Linked DNA regions of Homo sapiens. The protein of the gene in region 2 interacts with the protein of the main gene of each other region in a biochemical or structural test. Each region holds a gene or a part of one and is shown on either strand. Other genes may lie near its edges. The genes, in order: FRMPD4, NOSTRIN and HTRA3.

Region 1 (3,651 bases), on a different chromosome or scaffold from region 2:
TCTCTACTGGGAAAAGAAGGTGGAGACCAGGAACCTGGACTATTTCCTATTCTCTTTTGGGAGTAGAGTTTTGCCCTTTGTGGACCATCTCAGATTTTTGTGTTTTTTTTTTTTTTTTGAGATGGAGTCTCGCTCTGTTACCCAGGCTGAAGTTCAATGGCACGATCTCGGCTCACTGGAACCTCCACCTCTGGGTTCAAGCAATTCTCCTGCCTCAGCCTCCTGAGTAGCTGGGATTACAGGTGCACGCCACCACGCCCGGCTAATTTTTGTATTTTTAGTAGAGATGGGGTTTCACCATGTTGGTCAGCCTGGTCTTGAACTCTTGACCTCGTGATCCGCCCGCCTCGGCCTCCCAAAGTGCTGAGATTACAGGCATCAGCCACCGCACCTGGCCAGATTTTTGTTTTAAATGGAATGGCCATGACATTCATAGGAGCCAGATGTTCAGTCAGTACCAATTGCTACCATATGAGAAGACAGATGAACTAAAACATCAAGCTTTTCCAAAAGAATAAACACATATGGACCTAACGTAAGCAAAGGGAGTGAGAATTCTAAAGAAAGTTGGGAAAAATCTCCCTCTTGATTTGAGTCATATATTCTAGAAAGTTAGTTCAGAAAAGTTTCCCCTACTCTATACCTAGAAATCACATATTCTAAAGTCAGAAGGGACCTAGAAATTATGTAGCTTGCTTTCTCACGTATGAATAAAAAAATTGAGCGCAGAGAATTATAGCGACCTGTTCCCAATCACACAGCGATTTAGTGAGGACTGGAGCCCTCAGGCCTGAGTTGGTGGATTATTTTCTGCACCACATTGCATCTGTGATGCTCTGCACACATTGACTTTTGCCTGCCTTGTAAACATCTGCAGTGTTATCAGAAATTAGCTGTTGACAGCAAGGCCATGTGTCAACACCTGAGAAACTTGCCTTCACATCTAGCACGTGGAGTTCTACCCGCACCAAGCTCTCCTCCTCGGAAAACATTTCGATCCTGTTGACGTGGCTAAAGTCGGCTAAAAGAGCCACCAGATTGGTTTTGGTGTTGATGACATGGCTTATGCCATACCGGGGCCCAACCAGGAGAGTCACTTCCGAGCGCTTTTCTGCCTGCTGAGAAAGAGAAGTTGACAACATAAAAATACTGAACCTCTGAAATGCTATGCCAACTTGAACCTATGATCCTATTTTTATAAGATTATATTTTCTTTAGAAAGTGTTTCTGGGTCATACTGTACTAAATCATCCAATTAGAAGAACCAGATACATGACTGAATTGAGGCTCTGATAAATCATGAGTAATTAGAAAGTAAATGTTATAGCACAGTATGTTCATAATCATAAGATCCTTTTAGAAATGAGGTTTGTTTTTTTCTTTTTGGTTTTCCTTTTTTCACTGTGAAAGCAACTTCTGGCTCAATGATTTAAAAGAAGGCCATTGTTAGAATCCTTTGATTCTCTCGGTTCTTCACATTTCTTTTTCTAGGGCATTCTGCAGTGGTGTTATCTAGTTTAACATTTCTTCTGATATTTTCAGACTGTTGTGAAGTTGGTTAGAAATGAAGGCTGGAGAAGATTCACAGCTGATTTGCTTTTGTCATCAGAGGCGGAATGAGCTGCTGTGGCTTCCAAGAGAAAGCAAAAAAAAAAAAAAAAAAGAAATTACCACTAATGTTGCCTTGAACACACGGCCCCCATACAATCGTAGGTCACTGAGGAACTTGAGATAATGGACCTTGGCTTGTAGTGCAGAGAGCTGAGGAGAGAAAAGAAACCTCAGGTGTTAACTCTATTGGGTATGACTCCATTTCAGCTGGAGACTAGCAGAAAACAAGTGTAAGATAGAAGGATGATTTTACGGCTGAAAAGTTGAGATGTGACAAAGACTATTCATTAGGAATAAAATTGCTACATATTTGGTTTCCTGATGAAGGACTGGAACATAAAATCAAGATTCAAATCTTATTTATTAGGGGGTCAATGTATGGGGCACTCATGGGTATAGATATGCTGGGCCAGGGCACTCAGCAAGTGAGAACAAGACCATAAAATGTTCCATTGAACATCTGCTCACTGGGAGATTTCAAGAGGTGAGTGGGCCTTCTACTTGCAATTAGGGACAAAGGTGAGGTGTCTACCTATATTCCCATTGCACAAGAGACTCACCTGAATGCAGACTTTGTGGGAATCATTTTGAATACGCACCTGCAATCTAGGCAAAGCCTTCTAAACAGGCCCTTTACACTTCCCCTCTCAAGTTTCTTCCAGTCCTTGCAAGTTTTCGGGGGAAATGAACTTTCTGAGAGCCAATCATTGTGGAAATGTTTGAACTTGCTAAATAAGGCTCTGTTTTATTAATTCAACTTGGAAAATCTGTTGAGTTTCACAAGTGATTTATAAATGAAATTTTATCCAGATAAAAGTTATCTTTACAAAGACTTAAAAATGTAGGATCCCATATCACTAAAAAGAGTATTTGATTTAAAAAAAAAAAAGGTCCATGTTTCATACTGAATGTGCCAGGGATGTTTATTAAGGTTGAAATTTTCCAACAAGGTGTAGACCACCATTAAGTGGCAATGACCATAAAATTCTATTTTCACTTGCAGATGGCTTGCCAACTTATTTGTTAACTATACATAAAGGCACTGCTCTTTATGTAATTGTTACTTAGCACCATTCATCCATCCTACTTCTTTCAAAAATGCAAAGCATTTGCAAATTGTTTTGAAAGCAAACTATTCACTCTTGGCTAGAAAAACAACCTTTAAAGGACAGTGATGGATAAATGGATAGGTTGATTGATCTTATAGCAGTTATCCAAATTATTACGAGTGGGCCAGGCTTGAAAAAAAAATCACAAGTCAATTATAGAAATTAGCTTCCAGCAAATCAGAACTGAAGTTAAAAAGAACTTGACCCACATCATCTTGCTACATCTCTGTAAGCTGAATGCTCACTGTGATCAAAGACATCCTTCCCATGAAATTGGGAAGTGAGTTAAAGGTGGCTGATAGTGTGTTGAAACTGATTATACTTAAAAAAAAAAATTGTCGTGGGGTGAGGAGGGGATAGAAATAAATGTACCTTACCCAGTAAAAATGACTTAAAAAAATCAGATACTAAGACAAAATGGTTCTCCACGTAAACAGTGATTTGTATTAGAGTCACACAAATTTCTCCAGCTAATATCAATTGGAAAGTGTTCTTCAGTTATAAGACTGCTTCCAATTTTATAGATCCAGTATTTTAAGGCTCCTTCTCTTTCTGGTTCCTGGAATCCTTTGCTTTTTATTACCTATAAACTATACCTCTCTTTTCTGACCAACAGTATATTTTAAAATTTCCTTTGTGTTTCTCTTACTTAATGAAAACAAAAACAAAAGCATAAAAAGATTTTAACACTAATGATGGTGAATGACAGCAATAATTTTATCTTCCCTCCAAAGGTAGGATTGAATCCATTGTTTGTCAATAGGGGTGATTTTGTTCCCGGGAGCACATTTGGCAATGTCTGGAGACATTTTTGTTTGTCACGATCACGGGAGGGTGCTACTGGCATCTTGTGGGTAGAGACCAGGGGTGCCGCTAAACATCCCAGAATACACAGGATGTTCCCCGTAACTCCCTAACAAAGAATGATCTG
Region 2 (3,651 bases):
TTTGGCCAAAAAGAGAAATATGTTGGCTGTACTGGTTTAAGTTATTGCATAAAAGTTGAATTCTTTCCTTCTCCAGCTCCAGAATGCTCTGAAAAGAATGAAAATTGGGGTAAGATCAGCCAGTTGTTATGCAAAATGGAAGTCACTCATCAAACACTGACACACCTGAAGACAGACTGAACAAAGTCTCATGATTAGCCTCTTGACTATGTCATATCCAAACCATAGTGGAGGGAGATTTCCAGGAAGGAATGTGTCTTGGTATCTTAAATCACTCACACACTTTCCCCAGGCTCTTTTGACCCAAAAGGCATATAGGCAGATGCTGTGGGTTACCTAAGTTTATGAGGAAGGGGGAGAAAAGAAGAAAAGGAAGCATTTGAGACACAATCATGGATTCCAGAGAATTCCAGAGAATTTCAGTAGAGATGGGGTTTCACCATGTTGGGCAGGCTGGCCTTGAACTCCTGACCTCAGATGGTCCACCTGTCTTGGCCTCCCAAAGTGCTAGGATTACAGGCATGAGCCACCGCGCCTAGCCAGGCCTTGTTTTTACAAAAAAAAAAAAAAAAAAATTGGGAAGAATTCCAGAGGGTGAAGCCCAGGAAAGCCCATATCCATGTCTTGGAAATGCATTGAGACACCCAATAGTTTTAGAATTGTTTATAGTACATTCAAGGCGTTCTGCTAGTCTGCAGGGAAGAGAATGACAGGCCACAAATTCTCTGTTTAAGGAGGTTATTTGACAAGAGAAGAATCCCAAAGTCTGACCAATTTATAATTCTGCCTAAAATTAGGCCTGGGAGTCAGAGTCCGCTGTTTGCAGGTAGACACATAGCCTCTTTATTTTGTGTGAGATGACAGAAGTTTCATTATTAGACTTATGACTTTTAGGTAGGAAGGGTAAATAAGAAAGTGAGGGGAATCACATTTGCTTTGTTAGCTATTAACATTTTAGAGGCCGGGCACAGTGGCTCATGCCTATAATCCCAGCACGTTGGGAGGCCAGGGTGGGAGGATCACCTGAGGTCAGGAGTTTGAGACCAGCCCAGCCAACATGGTGAAACCTTATCTCTACTAAAAATACAAAAATTAGCCAGGCATGGTGGCACACGCCTGTAATCCCAGCTACTCAGGAGGTTGAGGCAGAATTGCCTGAACCCAGGAGGTGAAGTTTGCAGTGAGCCGAGATCATGCTACTGCACTCCAGCCTGGGTGACAAAAGTGAAACTGTCTCAAAAAAAAAAAAAAAATGAGAAAATGTTACTTATTGGACCCATGCCAACTGAGTTGCTGACTGGTGGTTTTACAGGGGGCAGAAAGCTTTAGCAACTAAGCATTCTTAGAGAAGGCTGGCTCAGGCAGAGTATTCAGGGAGACTCCAAGGCCATGTGGGGGCAGTGTAAGGCTGCTGGGTATGTGCCCAGGGGACTTTGGGCTTTGATGGAGATGGCAGGTGTCCAAGACAAAATTCTTCCCATCTTTTTTTTTTTTTTTTTTTGTAAAAACAAGGCCTGGCTAGGTGCGGTGGCTCATGCCTATAATCCCAGCATTTTGGGAGGCCGAGACGGGTGAACTACCTGAGGTCAGGAGTTCAAGGCCAGCCTGCCCAACGTGGCAAAACCCCGTCTCTACTAAAAATACAAAAATTAGCCAGGCCTGGTGGCGGGCGCCTGTCGTCCCAGCTACTCAGGAGGCTGAGGCAGGAGAATCGCTTGGACCTGGGAGGTGGTGGTTGCAGTGAGCTGAGATCATGCCACTGCACTCCAGCCTGTGCAAAAGAGTGAGATTCCATCTCAAAAAAAAGAAAAGAAGAAAGAGAAAGAAAGAAAGAAAAAATACAAGGCCTGGGCATTCATCCTTTTATCCAGGGAAGTCCAGCTCAGTTGCTCTCATACCCACCATCCCAACTCCTGCATCCCACAAAGAGCACCAGCAATCATCTTTCATGAACAAGGCTTTGGAGAAGTTGGTGGGTAACACGACCATAGGGAAGAAGAAAGATGGGTATGTCTCAAGGCCCTTGGCAGTGCAAGAGAGGTGAGAATGGAGAGTCACAAAGATCACTGGGTTCTCCTTGCTCACCTCTTGAAATTCCTACAGGAGCCCATTGGCCTGATTCAGTATGGTATTCCTCTATATCCCTGTGTTGTTAATTCATCTATGGTATATGGTGATTAAAATTATTTTAAATTTCTTTATACTTTTAATTATGGTAAAATTTACATAATATGACATGCCATTTTATCCACCTTAGGCATCCATTTCAGTGTCATTAAGTGCATTCACATTATTATGCAAACACCACCATAATTCATCTCTAAAACTTTTTTCATCTTGCAAAAGTAAACCGTACCCATGAAACAACGACTTCTCATTTCCTACGCTCTGCATCCCCTGGCAACCACCATTCTACTTTCTGTCTCTACAAATTTAACTACTCTTGATACCTCTTACAAGAGGAATCATACACTACTTGTTCTTTTGCATCTGGCTATTTCACTTAGCATAATGTCTGCAAGGTTCATCCATGTTGTAGCATGTGCCAGAATTCCCTTCCTTTTTGGCTGAATAATATTCCATGGTATGCATATACCACATTTTGTTTTTTGGTATATAGTCATTTGAACACTGCTTGCAAATGAAAGTAGTAAAAGGCTCAGGCAGTAACTATGAACATCTGTGCCAATCACATGCAACTTTAGCTTTTGTATCAAGTGTCCTGACATTTGGATTGGAAGCCTGGAGCCACGCCCCCATGGCAATCTTCTTAGTTGCCTCTGAAGCTGCCCAATTTTCATATGTCAATGGGAGTCAAATGGATTGGTTTACGCTGGCAGTCCCCTGAGGCTTTCACAAAATTGCAGGCACCAGTCATTTGAATGTGGCCGTCTGCCCTTCTGTCTCCCAGATAAAGGATTAAAGACACAGAATAGCCTATCAAATGTTTTGCTTCTTAAAAGGCAGAATCGATATGCCTCATAACAAATACGTAAAACAAATTCTGCTCAGTTGTTTGGATCTCCTATGTGACAATCTTCAAAAAGAAGAAGTCCTTACCCTATAGAAAAAGATCTAGAAATCAGCTCTTCTGTTTTAGCCTATGAGCAAGAGAGAAGAGAAAATAAAAGCCAGGTTTTAGAACATATTGCATCCCTAGTGGGCAGGTGTTTCTTTACTTTGACAAGTGCTGAACCACTAGCATCAATCTGAGACTAGAATAACCAGTGTTCCTTAGTGACATGGTAATGCTTAACAGATTTTAATTACATTTCAGGGAAATCATTAAAATGATCTATGTTTGCTCATAAGAAGAGGAGGAAATAAATTCCACTGTGCAAAGGAGAGATCCATATCTAATGATTTTTTGCTTTTTATTATCTTGTTCTTTTTATATAAAATAGGTGGTAGAGAAGCAAGATACTCTGGAGGACCTCAAACTGTCCTCTTGAGGTTCCACAATAGTATATATGAACAAAGTGTGGTCAAGGAGTTATCCAGAAAGATTCAGATTTCAGCAGATTTAGAGCCTGTCTGGGGCCCAAGCATCATGACAATTTGTTCTTCATTCGTTCCTTCCAGTTCTTGCTGTCCTAGCCTTTGGGCTGGTACTACAGGAAGAAGTCAAAGGGATTTTGTTTTCATTTAAAT
Region 3 (3,574 bases), on a different chromosome or scaffold from region 2:
GGTAGGGGACACAGAGTGGCCAGTGGTGGGACAGGGCAGTATGGGGGCCCAGAGGTGGCTCCTCTTCTGGTCTGGTGCTGGAGGGAGGGAGGGGCAGCTTCATACCAAAGAGCTGGGCAAAGGCTCAGGGGAGGGGCCTTGACGGCAGACTCTTTCCAGCCTGGTGGATGAGCTGAAGGCCAGCAACCCGGACTTCCCAGAGGTCAGCAGTGGAATTTATGTGCAAGAGGTTGCGCCGAATTCACCTTCTCAGAGGTAGGCTCTGCCAGAGGAGATCGCTCGAGGCATGGGGCAGGCGTGAGGTCTGGGCTGGGGCTGCCCCACTGACCTCATGTGACCTTGAGCTTCCCAGCAAAGTGACCGGGAAGGGGCAGGTGGATTCTAGCGTGTCTGCTAAGCCAGAGGAGGCTGGAGAGCTGAATGGTCCCTAGAGCCCTGACTGTGTACGTCCTAAGTCCCACAATGTCATTTCCTTCGAGAAGCAGAGGCTGAAGAGTCCCTGTTGGGCTAAGAACCCACTCCAAGCCAGACTCTTTCACTAGCTGGGGACCAGCCTGGGTCCTGGGTCTTTCTGGGACTCAGCTTCCTCATTGTAAAGTGGAGATAATTCAGCCTATTGTTTTTTTTTTTTTTTTTTTTTTTTTTTTTTTGAGACAGTCTCCCTCTTGTTGCCCAGCCTGGAGTGCAGTGTCGCGATCTCAGCTCACTGCAACCTCTGCCTCCTGGGCTCAAGCGACTCTCCTGCCTCAGCCTTCTGAGTAGCTCAGATTACAAGTGCCCACCACCATGCCCTGCTAATTGTTTTTGTATTTTTAGTAGAGAAGGGGTTTCACCACGTTGGCCAGGCTAGTCTTGAACTGCTGACCTCAGGCGATCCACCTGCCTTGGCCTCCCAAAGTGCTGGGATTTCTACCCCCAGGAGACTTTGTAGATGAAATGGATAAAGGATTGCTTTCTTTGAAGTCTTCCAGTACTAGAGAAATGTTAAGCATTGCAACACCATAGGCTGAGGCAGGCGTGCAGCGACACTACCACATGCTGGCATGGCTGACCCACTCCCAAGAAGGGCTCTGAACCAGTTGCCTCCCCTCCTTAGCCTCGGTCTTCATCTGCAGTGGGAAAAATCCACATATAAGTGGACCCACACAGTTCAGACCCATGTTGTTCAAGGGCCGACTGTACTGTGCATCCTCAGAGGCTGGGCTTGAAGGTGGGAGGCCCCGCGTGAACTTCTGTGATGAGCACAGATGGCACACTTGTCCTGCCCGCAGCAGGCCTGCAGTAAAAATTGTTGAAATTGGGTGAAATTTTCCACACACATCTCAGTTAATCCTCACTGCAGCCAGGGAGGTGCAGGCTCCTGCCCTCACCCATTTTACAGGTGGAGGGACTGAGGTTTAGAGAAGTTACTCTTCCAGGTCACACAGCTGGCATGTGAGGGTCCTGATGCTGGTGCCCACGCAGCTGAGCACAGTACCATCACCTTCCTTCCCAGCAGTGGGGAGGTCTCAGTGAGCCTCATGCAGAGAGAAGGCTGGCCCCGTGAGCTCTGCCTCCCACATAGACGTCTTCGTAACTGCAGTAACAGCAGAACCTACTCCTGGGCCTTTATAATTTGCAAAGTGCGTTTCCACATAGGATGGTAGACATGAAAACTGAGGCACAAGGGGACAGAGTGCCTGGCCCAGCTAGGAGGGCTGCAGCGGGAGCTTGAACCCACCCTTCTGACGCATGGGAGAAGCAGTTTGAAAGGTTGTTTCCCTGTCGTGTGACATTGGTTTTCTTCTGGTGTGAGAGCTTTGGGGCTGGGGCACTGTTCTTTCCCATCGAGATGACTTTTGTTGAAATGTTGTCATTGACCCTGACTGTGCCTCGCTCTGGGCCGGGCCTGGGAAGGCTGTGCCTGGGGAGGCGGTGGGTGGTGACCCCGTCTCTCCTGTTGGCAGAGGCGGCATCCAAGATGGTGACATCATCGTCAAGGTCAACGGGCGTCCTCTAGTGGACTCGAGTGAGCTGCAGGAGGCCGTGCTGACCGAGTCTCCTCTCCTACTGGAGGTGCGGCGGGGGAACGACGACCTCCTCTTCAGCATCGCACCTGAGGTGGTCATGTGAGGGGCGCATTCCTCCAGCGCCAAGCGTCAGAGCCTGCAGACAACGGAGGGCAGCGCCCCCCCGAGATCAGGACGAAGGACCACCGTCGGTCCTCAGCAGGGCGGCAGCCTCCTCCTGGCTGTCCGGGGCAGAGCGGAGGCTGGGCTTGGCCAGGGGCCCGAATTTCCGCCTGGGGAGTGTTGGATCCACATCCCGGTGCCGGGGAGGGAAGCCCAACATCCCCTTGTACAGATGATCCTGAAAGTCACTTCCAAGTTCTCCGGATATTCACAAAACTGCCTTCCATGGAGGTCCCCTCCTCTCCTAGCTTCCCGCCTCTGCCCCTGTGAACACCCATCTGCAGTATCCCCTGCTCCTGCCCCTCCTACTGCAGGTCTGGGCTGCCAAGCTTCTTCCCCCCTGACAAACGCCCACCTGACCTGAGGCCCCAGCTTCCCTCTGCCCTAGGACTTACCAAGCTGTAGGGCCAGGGCTGCTGCCTGCCAGCCTGGGGTCCCTGGAGGACAGGTCACATCTGATCCCTTTGGGGTGCGGGGGTGGGGTCCAGCCCAGAGCAGGCACTGAGTGAATGCCCCCTGGCTGCGGAGCTGAGCCCCGCCCTGCCATGAGGTTTTCCTCCCCAGGCAGGCAGGAGGCCGCGGGGAGCACGTGGAAAGTTGGCTGCTGCCTGGGGAAGCTTCTCCTCCCCAAGGCGGCCATGGGGCAGCCTGCAGAGGACAGTGGACGTGGAGCTGCGGGGTGTGAGGACTGAGCCGGCTTCCCCTTCCCACGCAGCTCTGGGATGCAGCAGCCGCTCGCATGGAAGTGCCGCCCAGAGGCATGCAGGCTGCTGGGCACCACCCCCTCATCCAGGGAACGAGTGTGTCTCAAGGGGCATTTGTGAGCTTTGCTGTAAATGGATTCCCAGTGTTGCTTGTACTGTATGTTTCTCTACTGTATGGAAAATAAAGTTTACAAGCACACGGTTCTCAGCCAGCAGGGCACTGGGGCAGCCTACCCACCACTGGCCAGGGTTCTTCCTGGGGACCCATCTAACACATGACTGGGCATACCTGCAAAGACACGGGCCTTTAAAGGGTTTCTATGACAGCTGAGCACTGGGGCACACCAGGTCTCGGGGTCATGTGGCGCTGTGGAGGGCCAGCTCCGAGTCAGGCAGCCCGGCTCAAGTCCTGGCTCCTCCGCTTACTTCCGGCTTCGTGGTCTTGGGCAAGAGATGTTCCCCTCCCTACCTTGGCCTCTGCCTCTGTCCAGCAGGAAGGCTGGCTCTGCTGTGCTGACCTCCTGGATGCCCTGGGATGCAAGGTGACAGATGCAGCACTTGGGAAGCCACCCGGCTTACGGGGAGCTCCCACTAAGCCCCACTGTGCACGTCTGGTCACATGAAGAACCCTTTCTCACATCTATTTCACCCTCCCTGCCACCCATCCAGCGATGGGGAAACTGAGGCAGAGAGCAATTT

Evidence for each region.
Region 1: the proteins of NOSTRIN (region 2) and FRMPD4 interact in a test that uses a peptide from one of them, tested with the Homo sapiens proteins (one large-scale study listed by IntAct).
Region 3: the proteins of NOSTRIN (region 2) and HTRA3 interact in a test that uses a peptide from one of them, tested with the Homo sapiens proteins (one large-scale study listed by IntAct).

Annotation. Positions count from the first base shown.
Region 1 is NC_000023.11:12,704,936-12,708,586, reverse strand, and holds part of FRMPD4 (FERM and PDZ domain-containing protein 4), read right to left. Parts: intron 1,762-3,651; coding exon 1,672-1,761; intron 1,119-1,671; coding exon 936-1,118; intron 1-935. UniProt on the Homo sapiens protein: Positive regulator of dendritic spine morphogenesis and density. Required for the maintenance of excitatory synaptic transmission. Binds phosphatidylinositol 4,5-bisphosphate.
Region 2 is NC_000002.12:168,847,521-168,851,171, reverse strand, and holds part of NOSTRIN (nostrin), read right to left. Parts: intron 337-3,651; coding exon of another isoform or gene 166-336; intron 89-165; coding exon 1-88. UniProt on the Homo sapiens protein: Multivalent adapter protein which may decrease NOS3 activity by inducing its translocation away from the plasma membrane.
Region 3 is NC_000004.12:8,304,025-8,307,598, forward strand, and holds the end of HTRA3 (serine protease HTRA3 isoform 1 precursor), read left to right. Parts: intron 1-159; coding exon 160-255; intron 256-1,946; coding exon 1,947-2,112; 3' UTR 2,113-3,074; downstream 3,075-3,574. UniProt on the Homo sapiens protein: Serine protease that cleaves beta-casein/CSN2 as well as several extracellular matrix (ECM) proteoglycans such as decorin/DCN, biglycan/BGN and fibronectin/FN1.